3 linked regions of the Homo sapiens genome follow. The protein of the gene in region 3 binds, or shares a complex with, the protein of the main gene of each other region. Each region holds a gene or a part of one and is shown on either strand. Other genes may lie near its edges.

Evidence for each region.
Region 1: APOOL (region 3) and CHCHD3 share a complex: the UniProt entries of both Homo sapiens proteins name them as parts of the mitochondrial contact site and cristae organizing system (MICOS) complex.
Region 2: APOOL (region 3) and CHCHD6 share a complex: the UniProt entries of both Homo sapiens proteins name them as parts of the mitochondrial contact site and cristae organizing system (MICOS) complex.

What each region holds. Positions count from the first base shown.
Region 1 is NC_000007.14:132,784,969-132,792,424, forward strand, and holds part of CHCHD3 (MICOS complex subunit MIC19), read right to left. Parts: intron 693-7,456; coding exon 669-692; 3' UTR 1-668. UniProt on the Homo sapiens protein: Component of the MICOS complex, a large protein complex of the mitochondrial inner membrane that plays crucial roles in the maintenance of crista junctions, inner membrane architecture, and formation of contact sites to the outer membrane.
Region 2 is NC_000003.12:126,951,907-126,959,362, reverse strand, and holds part of CHCHD6 (MICOS complex subunit MIC25), read right to left. Parts: intron 1,948-7,456; coding exon 1,812-1,947; intron 1-1,811. UniProt on the Homo sapiens protein: Component of the MICOS complex, a large protein complex of the mitochondrial inner membrane that plays crucial roles in the maintenance of crista junctions, inner membrane architecture, and formation of contact sites to the outer membrane.
Region 3 is NC_000023.11:84,999,004-85,007,061, reverse strand, and holds the start of APOOL (MICOS complex subunit MIC27 precursor), read right to left. Parts: upstream 3,186-8,058; 5' UTR 3,150-3,185; coding exon 3,135-3,149; intron 1-3,134. UniProt on the Homo sapiens protein: Component of the MICOS complex, a large protein complex of the mitochondrial inner membrane that plays crucial roles in the maintenance of crista junctions, inner membrane architecture, and formation of contact sites to the outer membrane.

The sequences.
Region 1 (7,456 bases), on a different chromosome or scaffold from region 3:
AAATACCTTATCTCACTTGTAATCATAAACATTATTCCAGTAGAAGAGGTACATTTTCTCTCCTTTTTGTCTTCTTGCCTGTATAATCACCATAATAAGTTATAATGAAATAGCTCTTACATAATCAAAGGAGAAAAGAAAGACAAAACCAACATGCCACAGCCTAGACAATTCCATCCAGCACTGCTGCCTCCAGATCTGTTTTCTGGCTCTCTCCACCCAGCACTGCTGCCCTCGGATCTATGTTTTCTGGCTCTCTCCTCGCCCCACTCCAATTAATTTAGCCCCCAACCCCATCCTACTTTGTTAGGGTGGAGGTTCACCAAATGATGGGGCTTGTTCAGAAGAGAAACATTTTATGGTCAGTGCAAGTTGAATAGAAAGTACCAAAAGGTGGAGAGGGCTGCCCTTCTCTTTTAATCATCATAAGAGGGTTTACTAATACTCAAGAGTGTCCTTTAATGACTGATCCCTGATCAAGGCTTTGGCCCTTCAAACTGCTGCTGTTCAAAACGTGAAATGATTCTGCTGAATCCATTCTTGATGTCTCTCTTTAGTGGTCTTCTCATTAGTGGTCTTCTCTTCAAATGGGTTGTTTTCTCACTAGGAAAAAAAATGTTCCATCTCTGGAATTAACGTTGATGGTGTTTTGCTCATTCTGAAAGTTTTTATCCTCCCTTCTCAAGCATGCTCTGCAAGAAAAACAGAAAGAGTAAGTTTTACCACCGGGAGAGGACAAAAAATAAATGGCACTAACTATTTAGTATGATTTGTGTTGCTTTTCAAATATCTAATTTTAAAAACACAGAAAACAAGGCATATGCTTCCTGTTCTCAAAATATTGCTCCTTTAATCAACACCATTGCTTTATCAATATGATCTTTAAATGACCCCTCTCACCACCACATGGGTTGAAAACCCCAACAAGGCCGGGCGCAGTAGCTCACGCCTGTAATCCTAGCACTTTGGGAGGCCAAAGTGGGCAGATCACTTGAGCCCAGAAGCTTGAAATCAGCCTGGGCAACACAATGAAACCCAATCTCTACCAAAAACAAAAACATTAGCTGGGCATGGTGGTGTGTGCCTGTAGTCTCAGTTACTCGAGACGCTGAGGTGGGAGGATCCCTTGAGCCTGGGAGGCAGAGGGTGCAGTGAGCCATGATCATGCCACTGTACTCCAGCTTGGGCAACAGTCTTTGCTGTCTCAAATAGAAAGCAAAAGTGCTCCTGGTAGGGGCATTTGGAAATGTTGGGAGCATGGCTGATGGATGCAGTGACCGGGGGAAAGCTATGGCCAAGGCAGTGCAGGGATCAAACCCCAACTCCAAAGGCTCTGAGAGGGAATCTCTTCATTAGAGAAACACAAGATTCCTTCCCAGAGGGGGAGAACGCAGATGTTCATGTGCTCATGAGGCTGGACAGAGCTACACAGATTGGTACCTATTCCCAGATTGCAGAAATGGTCCCTACATTCTATTTAGTTATTTATTTGGGAGATGAGGATGTAGATAGGAAGAATTCTTAACTATCAGATGAGAACTCTATAACCAGCTGAAATGGGGGTATACTGCCTTCATTTTTAGAGGTCTTTAAGAAGAAAAAAGTGATACTTTCCCCTCTAGTTTTGCAACCACTCAGAGAGGCAAGGTGAGGCCGAGGTTGCCTCTAGTTTATCCATTCCCACCTGCCTCCCGCCAACCCGCACCCTTCCAGCCATCTCTTCATTGAGCTCCTACCAGGTACCACTGCACTCAGTTTAGTGCATTGGGGAAACTAATACATACACCTGTGGAAAATTCAGGAATAATAAAAGGTAATAATTTGCTAATTTTTATTTATTTGCTAAATACATGCTAAAATTTATTGTGTAAACAGCATAACATTTAACAGGAACCAAATAGTATCTGGTAGAAAGTAATTTTTTCCTTCCGTTTCCCAGTTTCTGTGTCCCCTTCCAGAGATGGTCACAGTTCACAAGAGGAATGGTTCTGCCTGGTGCAGAGGGCAACCCTGTAGCTGGAGCGAGCAGGGAAGGCTTCTCCAAGGACCTTCCACCATGGAGAGAATCCAGGTGGAGGACTGGGGTGGGACTGGGAGGAGTGAGGGGAGAAAGCGGTGGCCAGGATTCAGCAGGGGAAGAAGCCTAGCACACACAGAATCCTGAGGGGAGAGGCCTAGCTGGAAGAAAGGGTACATGCTCAGGACTGACCAAGAGAAAGGGTGGAAAGAGGGCCCAGGACGGACGCCAGGCTGAGACATGTCCTGCTAGCCACAGAAAACATGGAGGAATGCTTTTACATAGGAGAATGGCATTTAGGAATGTTAACCTGACATCCTCAGCATGATGGATCCAACAGAGGGGAGTCTGCAGGCAGGAAGCCCAAGGAGGAGGCAGATTAGAAACCAGACAAAGGTGGAAACAAGAACTAGAGCTACATGGGAAGAAAAAGGGAGATGGTGACACCCAAGGTATGGGAGGATCCTTGGTGACAAAGACAGTGATGGGGCCACCAAGAGAAACAGGGAAGTCAGTGGGAGCCTGGGAAGGAGGAGGATGACTTAAATTTTGGGTTTGTGAGGCAATTTTGGGTGAGACATCCAAAATGGAAATGTCTAGAAGGACGCTGTAGGCCCTCTGAGGTCAAAGGTCTCTAGACACAACAATTTAGGGTCAAAAATTTAAAAATGATTGAAATTAAGGGGACAGAACAGAAAGAGTAGAAGTCAAACAAGATGGTGTATTGGGTCATAGGAGCAAAGGGTGGATAGATTATCCTAAAGTGTTCATCATTATAGGTTTCTAAGAAGTCTATGTCATAGGGCACAAAAGAACAGATATAAAGGCAGACAAACTTAGACATAACACACACAGTGGTGAGAAAAACAATGATTCTGTCATACAGGAGGTAAATTAGAAAAGCTAGATGCATTTAGGGAAAACAGGAAAAACAAAGTAGGTGCAGTGGAAGATTGCTCAGCAGAGAGTTGTCCTGTAAGAACTCATACTGGAATGTGAGGCACCAGCCCCATGTTCGCTGGGAAAATAACACGCTGAGCACCCACCATGTAAGAGACACCACCTGGCAGTGTCACAGCGTCACAGCATCTCAGCTATGCTCACCTGCTTATGAATTGATCTGTGTGAGCCTCTCCAATCACATAGATGATAAGTTCTATAAATTCCAGATATATAGACAACCTCACTACATCATGCTTTATTAAATACAAAATGGAAGCCAGTATCAAGCAGATCTATACTGAGCCTATCTAAGGGAATGCAGTTACTAGAGAAAGTGATCTCTTTATAAATGATGCCACTTAGCCATTTGCATTTGGGGGGGTTATAGATTCACTGCTTTCTTCAACACACTGATGGGAGCTTTGAGTTGTCATCTGCCTGGTCAAGATTACATAGCTGTACCCCTCTCTACAATTTTGGGCTTAGGGTTACAAGGATAACCACATGACAATGTACCTCCTTTCAAATATTGCAAAATAACCTGCAGCTGCCACAACTTAAGGAAAGCAACAGTTAAAGAGTGTTTTCACGAGTCTAGAGATTGTTTTTACTATTCTCTCTGCAACCTCAACCAAATATAGATGGGTAATTTTTCAGCCAAATCATATCATGCTAAGAATGTTAGGCTCTCTTTCAGAAAGAGACAAGATGGGGCCTGGCTGGTCTGAGGATGAGCAGGCCAGTCTCACATAAAGACACTAAAAGAAGTAACATTTTAATAACCCCTTTAGCCACATTCACAAAATACCGTTACATGTATTAAAATTCTAATCCTCCAAGATAGCACAGTGGTTCAGCTGATTTGTGGTGACTCCTTGAAGACATGTGGGACCACCACAGAAAAGCACCAGGGCTGATCTATAAACATTTTGTCAAACTGCACTCACTTGCTACCAAAGGGTGGCAGGGGTGGTACAAAACCATCTCAATTCTATCAGGGAAATTAACAAACACAATGGCAGGCTGGATTTTTAAAAAAGATGAATTCATCTGTCAAACATTTTGGGTTATTATTATATTCCAGCTATGCGACAAAACCTGCTCCAACTCAGAACTCAGGGCTTTTGGCTGGAGGGATCCGTAGTCTGGTGGGGTCTGTGTTATTCAGCTTTCACCTTATAGGTTCTACTGTCTCTGTATTGGTTCCGTAAGTACTGCTGTTGGGCTGAATTTCAACGCTGCATAAATTTAACACTGCATAAATTAACATAGGAAATTCCCTAAAGAATGAGGGAGAAGCTTTGCAAGTTATAAAAAATTGCTTCCTTCATTTAAGGAACTGCTAACACTTAATCTTAATGTGGAGAAAGAAATTCCTTGCTTTTGCTCATCATTCACGTATCTGGGCCTGCAGAAACTCCTTTTATAAACAGCTGGGTAAATCACCAAAAGAAGAGAGTGGTTCAGGCATGAACACTGCTCTTTTCCCAAGTCTTTTTCTCATTCCAGCCACTGAAGAACAACCGGCAGCTCACAAATAAGAACAGCGCCCCTGGAGACCTGAGATTGCGTGTCATTTCCGCTTATTAAAACCTTACTAACCATCCTAACCGCTTGCCTCAAATATTTCTGTTAAGCAGTAATCTCATCAACTGATTTTTGAATCACAGCTTTCTTGGAGGGGTTGACTATCATAGCAGCATGCCAGCTACTGGTTGTGTTGATAATTTAAGAGAAATGATGGCAACCCTGGGTTGCTAACCAATCATCATGAAGAGAAGAAAAGCGGTTTGTTTTTTAAGATACCACTCAGGGTGCTTGTCTCTGGATGAACTTACCCAGCGCCTCACCAAGACTTCAGGCCTCATAAAGCTGGGTAGAGAAGCAGGAAGGTCTACCTAACCAAGGAAAAATGAAACTGGAGATGTGTCCTGGCACAGACCTGGTCTTAAGACACGAGTTTTACTAAGGAGGGTCAGGAAAAGTGGGGAGTGGGAGACACTGGAGCTTCGATGAGGAAAAAGCCAGAATGAGAAGACTGTGCATAAGACAGGAAGGAAAAGTCATCTATAAATTGAATTTATGGGAAGCACAAAGCGAGTTTTGCCTGTGCACCAAGTACTGTTCTTCACTACCTGGAAATCTGATTAGATCACTTATTTTGTTTTCAATATGTGTCTATTCCCCTGCAGCAAGAGCTGTTTGTTCTTTGTTCCTCCTGCTTTGGAGGAAATAGAAGTTAACTTTTTTCTGCCTGGATCTTGTTTTATATCTTCTATGACAAATGCTCTGTATAATATTCAAATTAAGTTACAAGTAATTAACTGTTTATACAGCTGGCTGCAATAACAGACAAAACACTAACATACTGCAGTTCTAATTGAAGGATGACCATGGGAAAAGAAATACCTATTAAGAAAAATGAAAATCTATTACCATGGTAGTATTTCTTCTATTAAACTCAGATTTAAAAAAAGAGAAAATGTCACGAAGCAACGATTACTCTCAGAAAGTGGTTTAGAAAAGGATTCCTATGATGGAAGAGGTTGGGATAGGAAATTTAAAGTTTGGAATTTTGTTTGCTTTGATCTGACTCTAAATTCAAAGGGCTGCCCTACCAAAAAAATGGGAAATCTATTATGAAATACCCACGTGTCAGTCACCCTGTGACCAGCATCCCAGCTGGGCAATTAATAAATGTCATCAAGCGATAATGATAAAGCAGCTTTCGAACACAATAAAAACATGCTCCTGGGGGGCTTCCCAGAAAGTTAACCTTCTTGATTATCTTCGTGCTCTCTGAAAGTGGCCACCGTGTACATCGGGGGGACCCTGATGTGGGTCGGGGAGAGAAGCAGGGTGACTGGGAGCAGTAGAACCAAGGGAGGGTCTGGTCACAGCTGTGAGCTAGCCAGGGGACTGGGGTCACCTACTGTTTCAATGGGAGCAAGAGAAGAGGGGAAGGGGATCTCTTTTCAAGGCTTCCATCTGATTCCCACATCATCTTCCAATTTGTTCTTAAGGCTAAAGATTCATTCCTAGGGTTGGTCTGATGAGACCTCTGCCAGGTAGCTTTGACCTATAGGGAGTGATAGCTCCCCATCTCCCAAAAGATGGAAAACAAGGACTTGGCAGGACCTCTGAAAGGTCAAAGACCTTTAATGCAATTCAGGCCAATGGGCTCTAAGAGCAATGGTTTTCAAACTTTGGGTACAGAGTCTCCTGGGAAATTTGGTCAAAGTTCAGATGCCCAGGCCTCACCCCAGACCTTCTGAATCAGAATCTCCAGGGATGGGGATTGGGTGGGTACATTTTAAGCAAACCCCTCAGGGGATTCTGATGCTCACCCACATCTGAGATCTGACACGACAGGAAAAATACCCTGGTTTTGAATTTAAGAGTGGGCTGTTTGGTCTGGGTTCTGCCCTTCTACAGATCATTTAAATTCTCTGGAAGCTAATTTTGCACATGAAAAAAATGAGGTTGGGTTATATGATCTCTAGGGTCCTTTTAGCTCCAACAGCCTATAAGTCTATTAAATCATTTGCATCTAATGTAGAGTTCATCTGAAAACAATGATAACATACAGCTTGCTCTGGCAATAGGTTTTTCTTTCAAGAACCTTGATTTTTAAGCAAAAGCTACTACTATGTTTTCAGGACCCCTTCATACTCAAAATATGTCACAGACTTAGGAGCAGAATCCTGGTCTAATATAAATACAGTTCACCGGGGAGATGAAATTGTCCTTCAGAAGGCGGACAGAAATTGTGCCAGGGCAAATTCCTCCATATGCACTGATCTTGAGGCTTTGACTTAGGAAGCCAACCAAATACTGGAGATGTCAATGATATTTTAGAAACGAGACAACGGGGTGCACTAGCCTTAAGTTGGAGAGCTGTCACATTAGGATCTAGCCTCATTTACTGGGTCCTGACCCCAAGTTCCTCACTGTGGCCAGGTTCCTTTCTGATCTCTCCAAAGAGATCAGCAGGAAGCATGTAGGTCTGAGGTGGGGCTGTCTCATTTACAAGACGTCCTTATTGTGAGCTGAACTAACTGTTTGCGTGGCTACTGTCCCACTGCCTGCTTACTGACTGAAACTTCTGCTATGGTTTGGGGGACCCCTGACAGACTCATCATCTAACTGCAGGTCCCACACTGACCTCTGTCCCTTGGGCATCTCCTGGGGTTGGTCCTTGCCTCTGGTCCCAGTTTGCCCTTGGTTGTCAGGCTCCAGGTTCCTGGCTTCCTGCTCTGTTTTCAGAGTCACACTTCCCATGGTACTTCACAGGATGAAAGGCATCACGATCCAGGGGAGGCTTACGGCTGGCTGGAGGGAGCCTGCATTTTCTAATGGCCTTTATTAGCCGGCAGGGTACATTCTGCCAGCCAGTGCAGAGACAGCTGTTTTTCACTTCACTGACTTTGGAGAAACTGTGAAACTGTTTCTATTCCCTCCCAGTTCTTTCTGCCACCTTGGCTTCCCCAGGGCTGT
Region 2 (7,456 bases), on a different chromosome or scaffold from region 3:
CCGTCTCCAAATGCACACACACTGCCAAGGCAGCACGTGGGGAGAGCAGGCAGGCCTCTGGCACTGCCATTGCTCAGTCTCTGGTTTCTTTGCTAGTCATGTCAGGGGTAGGGGCCGGGAAGGAGGGAGCCAGACCTGGCAGTGTCCCAGAGCCTCTCTCAGGGAATACACTGGGGTTTAATGTGATCTGTCTTCCTTGGTAATCACATTTTTGCCTTGGTGCGAGGAAGATATATTGGTGAGGTGTGTTTGTTAAAGAAATACTCTTAGGGGTGGTGGGTAGGGGCTGAAAACTACCACAGAGGTGGGGCTGGATGGAGAGAGGATGGAGTCTAGGGCTGGCCACTGAGGCGTAGGCCCTGCCAGGAAGCCAAGAGGCTGCAGCAGATCCCTCGGTAAAGAGTTAGGTGTGTGATGAACAGAGACTCGGAGCTGCCCTTGATTGGGTGTGTGGAGGATCTGGAGGCTTCACTTTGCTGGTGAGTAGGGAGCTAAGTGTCTGGTCGGTGCGAAGGGCCCTGGTCTGGCCCAGCCTACCCAGTGCCCCAGCGCCTCCTGCCCACGTGGAAGCAGAGTGAGCAGCCTTCCATCCTCTGAGATGGAGGAGGAGGCCGCCTGTCCTACCCAGGGCTTCCCTCTCTTGGAAGGCTGACAGAGGCCTTGCGACCACTCATCCTGTGTGGAGCTACTTCTGGGCTGTGTTCTGGCCATGAAGGGACAGTCGGTGCTGGACGGGGCTGTGACCAGCAAAGAGTGGAACAATCAGCCTTGGCAGATGGGTGTGAGCAGGGCATGACCCAAGGAAGCTCTTGCAGGCCTGGGGCTGCAGGACCCCGCTCAGTTCAGTGGGACAGATCTCCCCTTGGACATGGCTGGAGAGCACAGAGCATCTGGCCTCAGCCTTTTCCATCCCAAGTACCTAAAGCAGCCTGTCTCCTACTCAGGCCAAAGAGGCTTTTACGTGGGAAAGGAGACCTCGTCCTGTTGTTTCTCCCATACATTTTCACAAACAGGCCGCACTCCTTGGGGAGCCCAAACTAGGTGTTCTGAGAGTGAATGATGCTCCCCAAGGTGGGAGCTGTCCTGTTGGGGTGGGGCAAGGGTGAGGTATGGCTGGGAACAGCCTGACTGCACCAGAGGACGCTACGGGACCTGGGAAGGGGGAGGACTTATCTAGGATAGAGAGCAGCAGTTGGGGGTGGGGGAGGAAGGCAGTAGGAGCTGGCTGGGAGCGCATCACAGGCATCCAGGACAACCGAGGCCCACTGGAGTGGGAGGTGACCAGAGAGCACATGAGGCTTGGGACCACTCACCAGGAAGGCCAAGCCAGCACACCCCTGTAGACCAGCTCAGGGCAGGGTGGCTGTGAGCAGCTTCTGATGGCCACATCTGCTCCCACTCCTCTTCCAGATGGCCTATCCTTGCTGGGACCCCCACTCTGCACTCGGGCCTCTGCCACCCTCCCACCCCTAAGTGCCGAGGGCTAAGAAGTCCCCGGCACCCACAAGGGGCCCGGCCCTTGAAGGTGGGGCCTGACTTTACCCAGCCTGCTCCCACCCAGCCTAATAGGGCAAACGCAACAGGGATCATCTCCCTGGGGCCAGATGTCCAAGGCGCTCCTGGAAGCAGCCAGGAGAGTGTGCAGGTGACTGAGGAAAGCGAAGAATCCCTCCCTTGGCAAATGCAGAGACCTCCAAGTGGAGCATCTGATTCTAACAGGAAAAGGCAGGCAGAGATCTCCAATGCTAGATAGAGGTACCTCGCCTACCTCCCAAGGCCCTTGGAAACCTGGGAGGCAGGCAAGGCCTTACCTTGTGGGCGGCGCTCACGCAGCGCTGGTATGCCTTGACCAGGTCCGAGCACAGCAGCACCTCATGCGGGCGATCTCGGTAGCAGTGGAGAATCTGGGCCTGCAACCCTGAGCAGACGGGCTCCACCCTGCGGGGCCTGCAGAAGACAAGAGCAGGCAGGCCTGGGGCTCAGGTGCCAGCAGGCAGGGGAGAGAAACAACTCACATTCACTCCACCTACCTCCCAGGCGCTAGGCTAAGTCCCTGACACCCAGCAGCATCCTTTTAACCCTCAAGGAGAAGCACTGTGCTTTCCCGTTCTAGAAATGAGAGGACGGTCGCAGGGTCAAGCCCTGTGGTGGGTGGCTTAGGCTCACAATATAGCAGACACTGAAACATGCTGTGGTATGGGGCTCCACACCGGGCTCCTTCACTGGGGCCTGTGTACACTCAGGAGACAGGAAAGCCCCACTGGAGGGCCCCCATGAGGATGGTGCAGCCCGCCTCCAGGACAACCCGCCCCGCTGTGCCCAGGATAGCCATCCCTTTATGCCTGAGACAGCCCGCCCCACTGTGCCCAGGATAGCCGTCAGCTGCTTTCCTGGGCTTTCCTGTGCCTGTGGTTTACCCGTGACTATAACCATGTGACTTATTTTTTTTCCTGATTTAAAACTAATATGCGTGCAATAAGGAAAATGAAATCTACAGAAATGTCTAAAGAAATGAAAAATGTTCTTTTTACTTCTTAGAGGTAACCATTATAATATTTTGGGGGTAATTTACTATTTTTTTCTTTCTTTTTCAAAGTAGTTTTAGAACCCACAAAAGTGAGTAAGTTCACTTTCTAAAGTTGTGGAAAAAAAGAGCAAATATAGATAAACTAAAGTCAGTCACTGGCCCAGCCTCCTGAGCGTAATTTTGGATTGGTTGGTCTCCTTCCAGATTTCTCTCTCTCTCTCTCTCTCTCTCTCTCGTGCGCACACTGACACACACAACAGCACATTCGTGCACTCCCTGCCAGCCAGGTGCTGTCCTCCGGCTGCTGGGCGTGCTCAGTGCTGCTCCTTACAGCTCTGGTAGCAGACACTATCGTTCATCATGCTGTTCACACAAATGAGGAAACTGAGGCTCAGAGAATTAAGGCCATGCAGCTGGACAGTGGAGGAGCGGGACATATTTATTTACATGGCTTTGGATGTACTGTTGCTGCTCATTTGTTTTCTTAAGTGGGTTTTAGGCCAGGACCCTTCCCAGCTGTAGACGGACCCACTGTAACACTTAACAGCCTTTCCAAATTGAACACCACTCACGGCTGAGGGCACCAAAAAGAGCTGTAAAAATGTAGAAAGCCATTCCTCAAGTTTCTTAGCAATAGAAAGGATCACTGTCACACATGCCACAGCTCCACTCCAGGTACGTGGAGAGAGAGATATGTAGGTCAGTTGCTCTCCCACCAGGGTCTCCAGAGCCGTTATCATCTAACGATAACTTGAACACAGTTCCTCAGCTAGAAACCACCAGCACCAGGATGCTCGACAGCTTGGGAACAGGACCCCATATTTAGCTGTCTTGCTCTGGAAGTCTGCGGGTGGACACTTCTGTACACTGCTGACTTAGCAGTGATGCCACCTGGGTCTGGTCTTCCCTTCTCGTCCATGTCATCCCCAGGCCACTGTATGCAGCGCAGTCCTCTCTGCAGCAGAGGTCAAAGGGAGCAGGGAGGAGCAGGTCTCTCTGCTGTCTCATCTGACTACGCGGGACAATGCTCCCCTCAAACCCCACTCCAGGTTTCTCCTCCACTCACTGTCTAGGACCAGGTCACATACCCATGCCTAACACCATCGCTAACATGAGCAGTGAGTGTCCCATGTTCAGCTAAGGCCAGCAAGACCCATCCCCAGGGCATGAACAAAACGAACAGTCCCTAAATTAAAGACGGGGAGGGATGAGTGTGGGGTGGGGTGCAGCCGCCTGTGACTGCCATGCCACACCAGCGCCAAGGTAAAGGATGTGAAGGGAGAGCACGCCTTCCCCTTCCTGCCAGGGGAGGCCATGGTGGCCCAGCCCTGGCCTGGGTCCTTGAATTCCACCCCATCCTAGCCATTGAGGTCACAATTCTGACTCAAGTCTGCATTGCATGCACCAAGTCTTAAAGGGTCCTCTTATTTCCTGAAGAGGACTGGGTGGGGGGGGTTTTATCTGCATTGACTTCTCGTTCTTACATATGCAGGGCAGATGAGCCCCTGGTGTGCAGTCCTCTGCCCAGCTCCGGAGACCCGCTTCACTGGCCTGCGTCAGCTGCCGCACAGGCGGCTGGGGCAAGAATACAGCTGGGGTGTCTGGGGCAGCCCCTGATTTGTCTCCAGGTGCTTAAGCACGGCTCCACATCTGTATTTAAGAACTGTGACATGGGTGTGTCTAGTTGTGGGCTTTTTAGGCTGCTTCTTCCTTGGGGGACGGCTGGCCTCATGGCATTTCGTCTCAGGCAGGTGTTCTCAGGGACTGCACATACAGCTTTGGTTCTGAGTGTTCTGACACCTGTTTTAGGAGCACTTTCAAGTCACAGGCCAGGCTCTCTGCCTCCATCGCAGAGGCCTCCCCTCCTGTTCTGCTCCCTGAGTCTCCAGCCTTAGAAGGCTGTGCTCTCCCCTCCCCAGGCAGGGTTAAATCTGCAGGGCAGTGGGTGCCTTCAGTGGCACTGCCAGTCTCCCTGGGCTCTCTCTTGTCACCTATACTGCTGTCCCCTCATACCAGCCTCTTGCTGTGTCTTCTGTTCCTCCTGACGGTGCTGGCCCTCTAGAGTCTGAGACCCCAGAGCATGACTTCCATCATAGCCTCTGCTGCACTCCCCTGAAGCAGGACCCCACCCTGCCCTCATGGGGCCCTGGTGAGCCTGGTTCCTGGCTGCACCGTGGAGGCCAGCAGGCACTGAGGGGACCTGTGTGTCATGGTGAGTGGCTCAGGGGAAGCCCCAGGCTTAGTCAGGGCAGAGCTGTCCTAAGCTGTAACTCTGTGAGGCTTACTGATCTATGTGAAAAGAGGTACCATAGACAGGACAGGCGGAGGCTAAGTGGCCCCAGCCTGAGTCATGTGGCTGAGCCTCATGGAGCTGGAGGGCTGACCTGCTGAGCCCTGCCCTCTACAGAGGCACAACAGAGACGCCGACACTTTGCAGAATGGCGATGTGCAGGAAGACACAGCCACATTTGCCCCTCTCCCCATGGTCAGCCTGGCTGTGTCCCCTCCTCACTGGCTTCTCCTACTTTAGTTTCAGGTCCCAGGACAAGGGCCTCTGCATTTTGAGGGCAAACCTCGCAGTGGGCTCCCAGTTTAGGAGAAACTGGGCCATGGCGAAATCTATCCCCTCCTTGCCAGTATCGCCCGTGGGACCATGACAGCCTCTCTCTCCTGGGACTTATCAGAACAATATGAGGAGACAGAATGGAAGGCAAATGTCAACTGGAAGAAATTTCACCCATTTGTCCACAAAAAGGCTCTGAATGGGATAAGACAGGGAGAGCATAGCTCTGGAAATGAAAAGCTTTCTCTGAAGCAAGGCAGGGCTAGGCCTTCGGTGAAGCCATTCACAAAAGTAGGTGCACTCTATCCACCCTGAACCCCTCCCAGCCCTGGCACACCATGACCCTGTTTACAATGCATACAAAACAGCTCCCATGTTCAGAAACATGGTCTTGCAAACAGCTACTCTTCACATGCACAGATAAAGGTATCCAAAGTGTGCCACAAACTTGCCAGGGATAGAAATAAGTCCTGTACCCCTGTGTAAGGACATTTCCTTGGAGAATGAAGATCTAATGGTCCATGTGGCTTCGAAGGGGTTCACACCATTCGCATTGGTGTATGGGGTGTCTGTTTGCACAGGCATCAAAGACAATGCCCAGGAAGTTGGCTCACCTCACTGGCTCTTATGTTCCTCATTGGTACAATGGGAACAGTAACACCGCTTGCCCCATAGAAGAACAGAATTGCATGCTGTGAAGTGCAGCTCTCATAGCAACCTAGCCATCAGTGTGAGAAACCGAGGTGGGGCCAGGGTCTGGAGTGGGGTGAGCTTGCAGAAAGGCTGGGTTACTGGAGGCACTTGGCAGAGAAGAGCTGAGGATATGCTGGGGTGGTGGAACTGCCAACGTAGGGCTTGGAGGGTGGGACCTTACCTTAAAGGGTCCCTCCCTCTACAGCGTAAGCTCTGATATCATTCGAGACCTAGTTCAGACCTCGCCCAGCCTCAGTGGTGCCTCCTCCTCAGGCATGTTAGGGCATTAGCGAGTCTGCATAATCATGGTGTCTCTTCAACAAGGAGCTGGCAGATGTCTGAGGCTGGGACTCTTGGTCTAGTGGAAAGAACACAGGTTCTGGGATCAGACAAACCTGGGGCAAGGCGCTGGCTTTGTCACTTTCCACTGTGTGGTCGGTGCATCAGGTATGGGGGAGGACCCCACCCCACAGAGCTGTTGAGAGGATGGCAGGAGAATGGCAGGTGATGCCCAAGACGGCCCGGTCAGAACATGCTCAGTAACGCAGTGTGGCCCTGAAGGAATCATTGGCATTCAGTAAATAGGACCACAGAAGACCCCACATCCAGCCTCCTGATGGCCCTGAGAATGTGATGGCCACAGACAAGGCACATGGGTCCTGGTCCCTGGCAAGCAGGCCGCATAGGTCTGCCTGACTCCCAGAGCCCCCACCCTGTCGGCTGAGACCACAGACACAGCAGAGTCCAGAGGCCCCATGTGGTTCCTTCCCAACCCCTGTGCCTGAGCGGGCCTCTCCCACTGACCACCTCTCCTGGACCTTCTCCATTCCCCGCACTCCATCCAAAACACATTCATCTCTCAAAATATGGAAAAGCTTTTCAAATCGAAACCCCCTTTTGCCTCCATCTCCGTCCCAGGCCACAGCAGCTTCTCCTTGCTTAGAGAGGTGCTGCCTGGGGCTCCCCCTGCCCCACTCCCCTGGGCCCCATGCCGAGCCTCACTGCTCAGCTGACGGCACCTGCCTGGCCCTCACTGCCTCTCTGGCCACTTACTCTGGTTCTCTTCTGCTGGACCCTGGGCCTCTGCCTGTGTGCGAGCTCCACCTGTGGCCCCTGCCCTTGTCCCCTCAGCACACCAGCATGGTGCCCAGCTCAAGACCTGCTGTCCCCTGCCTGCCATGCAGCCCAGCAGGTGGCCATGGGCCCACATGGACCAGATGTGGCTAGCCCTCATCCCAACATCTCCTCCTCCTGAATTTCAGTTGGGTCGGCAGCACCAACACCCAGCTGGTCCAGCTGCACACCCAGAGCACCCAACTTCTCCAGCCCCCATGCCCACAGAGCACTCCCAAGTCTAGCCTACAGGAGAGCCCTAGCCCATGCCCTTGTTTTCACTGTCATTAAATAGCCTCCCAACGGTCCTCTCTACTTCCAGCAACAGTGATGCTTTCAGAACATAATGCAGGCCACAGATTTCTAAAACACCAAGGCAGTTCAAAAACTCATTCTTAGGTAATCACAACTCACTGCACAATGTGCGAAGCATTACCTCATTTAATCCCAAGCAGGCCCACATAAGGTAGAAGCTCTGTTTTTCCTTAAAACAAAACAAAACAAAAACAAACCCACAATGTCTCCAAGTGATACAGTAACTTGCTCAAGTTCACCATTTG
Region 3 (8,058 bases):
GTGAGCTCCCTCCTCTACCTCCTCCGTTCTTCAAAATCACTTGGTATCTTCACCTTCTATCTCGACCAACTCTGGCCTTTGAAGCAAAGTGTGTCTCCTCTTTGCAAGGTTAATCCCTCCACTTGTTCTCTTGATTTTACCACTTTCTTACAAAGTATGGTTAAGAGTCCAGGTTCAGGACTCATACCATGTGATTTCAGATCCAGCTCTACCACTTTACTCCTGTGTGACCTTGGAGTTACTTGACCTTTTTAAGCTTCTGTTTCCCTACCTGTAAAAAGTGATTAATATAAATTCCTACTCATAGGGCCAATGTGAAACATAAATGAGAGAATCCACATAAAGTGCTTAGCAAAATTCCTAGCACGTAGTCAATATTCAATAACACAATAGCTGTAAATACTATTATCTTTCCCTCTAGATACCTCCTGGTACATTTTCCCTTGTCTCCAAAGTAGCTCAAGTCTTCTGTCTCCTGTTTTGTTTTTAGTTTTTTTTTTTTTTAATTAAAAGACACCTTTTCTGGAATTTGCTACCCTCATTCCAAGATTTTGTTCCTTCTTTTCACCACCAAACTTCTCTAAAGAGTAATGTATAACTCCTTTCCAGAGGAAGCAAGGAGGAGTGGAAAGACTTTGGAGATAAATATACTGTTTGAACCTAGTTCTTCCACTTAGTGGTTGTATGACCTGGAGCAAGCAGTTTTTCTAAGCCTCCGTTTTTCCATCTGTAAAATGGATATATTACCCATTTCTTAGGGTCATCAAGAGGATTAAACTAAAATAATATATGTAAATCATCTGGCCAAAGTGGGTGCTAAATGAATGCCAGTTCTCCATCCCTTATTCTTTTCTTAACCCCATACAATCTTGGTTGTTCCTCTACCACTCTATTTATCTCTTTAGCTCACTTCAGCTCTTATTAGCATGGTTTTGAATAATCTGACTTCTCTAAACCTTAATTTTCATGTGTAAAATGGTAATAATACCCACCACATAAAGTTGTCTTGAGAATTAGTGAATTAACACATGTAACGTGTTTTAGCATAGTGCCTGGCCTGGAGTAAGCACTTAATAAATGATAACAGCAGCAACTTATTAATGGTGAAATCAAAGGACTGTTCAACTCTCTTCTTCTCAATGAAAACACACTATTCTGGTTTGCTTTTTGCCACTGACCATTCCTTCTGTCTCTGCACCTTCTCCATGAAGCCTCTTTTTACTCTCTTCAAACCAAGTGTGAGCTCTCTCCTTTTGAGCGTCAGAGCACTTTGTACTTCTCTTCAGGTAAGAAACTCCCCTTACTCTGAATCACAGTCATTTGTGTTATATGTGTTATATCTCCACCACTTAATCTCTTCTGTCCTCATTGCCTGGCACTTTATTCATGTAGAACATGTTGACTACCTAATATACATCAGACCTGTGCTAGGTACTACGGATACAAAGGTTAATATAATTACTGTCTTCAAGGAGCTTATAGTTTAGGTAGCTAGAACAGACAAGTAAGTAGTCTATATGTGCAGTGGAATAAATGCTTGGTTAAGAGTGTGCCCAGAGTCCTCTGGGAGCACAAACAAGAGTTATTAAAATAGACTGGCGAGGACCGGGCGTGGTGGCTCACGCCTGTAATCCCAGTACTTTGGGAGGCCCGGGGGGGGGGGGGGGTGAATCACGAGGTCAGGAGTTCGAGACCAGCGTGACCAACATGGTGAAACCCCGTCTCTACTAAAAAATAAAAATAAAAAAATTTAGCCGGGCATGGTTGGCATGCGCCTGTAGTCCCAGCTACTCAGGAGACTGAGGCAGGAGAATCGCCTGAACCCGGGAGGTGGAGGTTGCAGTGAGCTGAGATCGCGCCACTGCACTCAAGCCTGGGAGACAGAGAGAGACTCCGTCTCAAAAATAAAAAATAAAATAAAATAAAATAGACTGGGGAGATCAAGGACACTATTAAACAAGGCATTTTTGTGTTTTGCATATGGGGAGGCTGTACACAAATAGCTGCTGAATGAATGAATGAACTATAAATACAACTAGATAAGCATGGGAAAAGGCACTTTAGGCCCAGAGAAAGAGCACGTAAAAAAGCATGGCGGGGTCAAGCAAGCAGCTCAGTATCGACAGGAGGAGGGTTCCTGAGTGACAAGAGATGAGGCTGGAAAGTCTAGGTAAAATCAGATGTTCTAGACATAAGAGTATGGCCTGACCCCAGAGGGGAGATGATGACATGCCCATAAAATTTTTTAAATGCGGGGGGAGGCAAAAATCAAATTTGCATTTTGGTAGATGTACTCTGGCAACACAGAGGAAAACAGATTACATGAGAGCCAGGCTTGAGGTGGCAAGTTCAGGTAGGAGGTTGTTCAAATAACTCAGATGAAGTATGAGAACCAGAACTGTAGACGCTGCCGACTTAAAACTTCAGCGGAACTGAATTATTCATACTGTATCTCCTGCAAGCCTAACAGAATATTTTACAATTAAAACCCGCTACGTAAATATCTGTAGACTACCATTATTAAACACTACTTAGGGAACTGCAGCAAGCTGCCAGCTGAGTCACTCACTGTACACGGACTCCCAAGTAAAGGCACCTTTCCCAAGCGTAAAACTCGAAAGGAACAGGTTATTCGAGCACAGAAAGCAACAACACTATGTGTAAACCAGCGCACTGCTGAAAGACTATGGGACCTCTCTATCCTGGTCAGTTTCACCCCAAATGTTTCAACAAAGTCCTTCCATAGGGTCATGTGGCCTTGCCCTGTGCGCCGAGACAAATGCCAAGTTTATATATATATTTTTCTCTTTATTGCAGCTGAAGACCGAAACGTCTACTGCGGCTCGTCGCCTGGCCAGCCATTTTCACCCAGCCGTTTCCCAGTTTTGTACTGTGCCACTGTGTAAATCGACAACCACAGGGGATTGAGGGAGCAGCGTCCCAGGCTGATAAAACCCTAATGGGGAAAGGCAGGTGTCTTGAGGCTTCAAACGATAAAGATTGCAATTATCTCAAAACCCACCTCCACCCTGCCCCTTGTTTCAGGGCTCCTTCAGAAGTTAGTAGGATCCCTTTTACAGTTACCGGGATGCTATCGGCACCCACAGAAATTAAGCAAGTTGGTTTTCGCTTACCCTGATGGCCGCCATGTCTACAACCCTTTCGGCCAAGGTTTTCAGACGGAGAGCAGAGAGGGACAAATCAGTTCGACTAGGCTTCCCTTAGGACAGCCCCACCCCGTTACGCCCCTTGCCTGCCAGTTACCGCCTTTTCTCCGCCCTCCTCCAGCCGCCTTGGCAACTGCTGCGGTTTCGGTCAGCTGTCTTCTGGAGAAACTGTTCACCCCTGTGGTTGACCCTCCCGGTCCCAGATAAAGCCTTCCAGAACATTATCAATAGTCCAGTTGGGAGTTATTTTCCTGGGTGCAGAACTTTTAATTATTTTGTTTCGGGCATATGTGATATGTCCAGATAAGGACTTAATACCCAAATGTAGCTGCTTTAATAATTAATTATATAGTAAGAAAAACAACTTATTACCTCTGCGAAACATGGGTAAGTTCATTCATTCTAAAACTAAGTCACGGAGAGCATACTCTGTGCCGGGCAGTTGTTCGGGGCATAGACAAAACATAGTGGCTTCCTCACAGAGCTTATGATTACAGGAGTAAAAGAGACAAATGAGGCCGGCGCGGTGGCTCACGCCTGTAATCCTGGCACTTTGGGAGGCCGAGACGGGCGGATCACGAGGTCAGGAGATCGAGACCATCCTGGCTAACACGGTGAAACTCCGTCTCTACTAAAAGTACAAAAAAAATTAGCCGGGCGTAGTAGCGGGCGCCTGCAGTCCCAGCTACTCGGGAGGCTGAGGCAGGAGACTGGCGTGAACCCGGGAGGCGGAGCTTGCAGTAAGCGGAGATCGCGCCACTGCACTTCAGCCTGGGCGACAGAGCGAGACTCCGTCTCAAAAAAATAAATAAATAAATAAAAATAAATAATAAATTTTAAAAAAGAGACAAATGCTATGAAGGAAAATAAAACAGTATGGGAATGAGGTGGGAGTTTACTGGTTTATATCAATGAGAGAAAGACTCTGATAAGCTCATTTGATAAAAGTCCTGGAGGAATTTAGAGAAGAGGGTTGCATACGGAAGGAACAGCAATGAAAAAGTCCAGTGAGGCTGGAGCAATAATTTCAGAGGTAGCGAAGTAACACAGTGTAGGGGCTTTCGTGCCGCCAAAATAAATTTGGATTTTATGCTGAATAAGATGGGAAATCATTGGAGGATTTTGAGCAAAGGTGTGATGTGATCTAATTTACATTTTTAAAGGATGATTTTGGTGCTATCAGGAGAATATACTAAGGGTATATTGCAATATTCACAACAGGAGCAAGGTCTGCTGTAGGCCTCCCTGAAGGATTCTGAGGAAAGAAGATGCTCATAATATGCCCATTAACAGTCCCAATATTAATTCATGTATTCATTCATTCAATCAACAAATATTTATTATGTGCAAACTATATACTAGGCATTAGTTGATACCTATCACATTTCATACCCAAAACAGATCCTTTTTAACAGAACTGTCCTGTAAATGACAAAATTATTTTAAGAAATAATGATGAAATGAAACTAATAATACTGGCTACAAAAGAAACATTGAGTGACTATTTTCTTTTATTGAACTTAATATAAACATATACATACATATATATGCCAATATAAAAATAAAATGCAAAATAAATAGTACAGAACCAAAAAAGGAAAAAAATGGATCAAGGTGTTTTAATTGCATTAATGTATTTTTCAAAGGAAAAATACTTATATCTACATAGTGGTCTGCCACAGGAATGAATAATAATATTACAGTTTCTGTTTTTGAGCCTTAACCTCTGTGTATTTGTCAATAATTTCATCCAAATTTAACATTTCTGCATATTAAATAAATGGTATACCTAGATTTGTCAAGCTAACTTTGTTCATAACTGATTGATGCACACTTTTTATTGATTTTAATATCAGTCAGGTTTATTTCACAATAATCAACAGGCAAATAAGAAAAGTCTTAAAATTGTGAATAAGCTTAGAATAAATTTATAACAATCTTATTTCCCAAAAATTTCAGGAATTTCAATAACACCCATGTTTTGTTGTTGTAGTTGTTGTTGTTGCTTCTTTTCCAACTTTAACTTTTATTTTGGGTTTGGGTACATGTGCCGGTTTGTTATACAGGAAAATTGCATGTCAAGTGGGTTTGACATACAGATTATTTCCTCACCCAGGTAATAAGCATAGCACTTGATAGGTAGTTTTTCAATCCTCACATTCCTTCCACCTTCCACCGTCAAGTAGGCCCCAGTGTCTATTGTTTCCATCTTTATGTCTATGCATACTCACCATTTAGTTCCCACTTATAAGTCAGAACCTGCAGTATTTGGTTTTCTGTTCCTGCACTAGTTCACTGAGGATAATGGCTTCCAGCTCCACCCATGGTGCTGCCAAGGATATGATCTTATTCTTTTTTATGTTTTTGATGGCTGCATAGTATTCCATGGTATATATGTATCACATTTTCTTTATCCAGTCTACTGTTGATGGGCATTTAGGTTGAGTCAATGTCTTTGCTAGTGAGAATAGTGCTGTAATGAGCAGACCCATGCATGTGTCTTTATAGTAGAATGACTTATATTCCTTTGGGTATATACCCAATAATGGACTCCCTATTCAATAAATGGTGCTGGGAAAACTGGTGAGCCATAGGCAGAAGACTGAAACTGGACCCCTTCCTTATACTATAATAAAAAATTAACTCAAGATAGATTAAAGACTTAAATGTAAAACTCAAAACTATAAAAACCCTGAAAGACAACCTAGGCAATGCCATTCTGGACACAGGAACTAGCAAAGATTTCATGACAAAGACACCAAAATCATTGCAACAAAAGCAAAAACTGACAAATGGGATCTAATTAAACTAAAGAGCTTCTGCACAGCAAAAGAAACCATCAATAAACAGATAGCCTACAGAATGGGAGAAAATAATATCCAGCTTCTGTAAGGAATTTAAACAAATTTACAAGAAAATCAAACAACCCCATTAAAAAGTGGGCAAAGGACATGAACAGACACTTCTCAAAAGGAGATATACATGCGGCCAACAAGCATATGAAAAAAAGTTAAATATCAGTGATCATTAGAGAAATGTAAATCAAAATCACAATGAGATACCATCTCACACCAGTCAGAATGGCTATTATTAAAAAGTCAAAAAAATAACAGATGCTGGTGAGGTTGCAGAGAAAAGGGAACACTAATACACTGTTGGTGGGAGTGTAAATTAGTTCAACGATTATAGAAAGCAGTGTGGCAATTCCTCAAAGAGCTAGAAACAGAAATACCATTCAACTGAGCAATCCCATTACCGAGTAAATACACAAAAGAATGTAAATGGTTCTATCATGAAGACACATACACACATATGTTTATTGCAGCACTATTCCCAATAACAGACATGGAATCAACGTAAATGCCCAATCACTATAGACTGGGTAAAGAAAATGTGGTACATATATGCCATGAAATACTACACAGCCAAAAAAAGAATGATATCATGTCCTTTGAAGCAACATAGATGGAGCTGGAGGCCTTTATTTTAAACTAATGCAGGAACAGAAAACCAAATATCACATGCTCTCACTTATAAGCGGGAGCCAAATGATGAGAGCATGTGAACATAAAGAGGGGAACAACAGACATTGGGGCCCACTTGAGGGTAGAGGGTGGGAGGAGGGAGAGGGTCAGAAAAAATAACTATTTGGTGCTAGGCTTAGTACCTGGGTGATGAAATAATCTGTACAACAAACCCCTATAACACAATTTTACCTATATAACAAACCTGCACATGTACCCAAGAACCTAAAATAAAAGTTTTTAAAAAAGTAAATAAATAAAAACAATATTAACTTTTTCAATCCAAAAATAGAAAAAAATTCATAATTTCCTTACACTCATCTTTTCCTATATGAACAATCAAGAATAAATCAATGGAATGCATTCAATGCTTTTATGACCTTATCCACAAATATGGAAGCTTATGACTGGCATGTTTTTGTCAACTAAATGCTTTGACTTTACGTAAGAATGATCTATAGGACATGGAACTATTGTGTATGAGAATAAAAAGAAGTGTAATTCTCAGAATATGTCTATGTGATGTCCCAATTAGTGGCAGAAATATTTAAAAAGTCAGAAAAAATATATACTGGGCTTGAGGCAATGAACAACACAGACACAATCCCTGGTCCCAGGGAGCTTAAGTATATTTTGACTAAGACAGTAAATAAATTAAGATTATTTTAAATGCTGATAAATACTACAGAGAGTGACTATAGTATTTAGTCTCTGGTTTGGGGTGAAAGTTACTTTAGATTGGGAATACCTCTTGAAGGAGCAGATGTTTCAGCAGTCTTGAGTAAAACGTGAGTCTACTCATGTTAATGTTTGAGCACTCCAAGCAGAAGGAACAACTAATGCAAAGACCGTGAGGTGAGAATAAACTTACTGGAGCACCATAAGTAAGGCAGAAAGTGATAGAAGAGTCTGGCAGGAACCAGATCTATATAAAGAATTTGGATTTTCTTTTAGGTTATTTATTCTTAAATATTCCTTGATTTATTATTGTAAGTTTATCAATTGCCACTAATTGCTTTGGGCACAAAAGGCAGCTTTGTATAATGGAAAGTATTAGCATCAAAATAAAATCTTGGCCTCTAAAGGCAGAATCTTGAAGGAGCTGAGCCAGACCAGATGTTCCAAAAGTTAGTGTATTTGGGAATCACCTGCATAATTTGATAAAATGAGAATTCCTGGATCCCACCCTTGGATATTGGTATTTATTTGTTCTGATGTAGGGGCATGTCTGAAGAGTACCCCAGGTGTTTCTAATATGGATATTCCTTGGGCCACATATTGAGAAACAAATCAAGTCCACTTATACGGACTACATAATTTAACAATGGTATGTTATTTCTAGCTCTGACACCCTAGGATCATGTAAG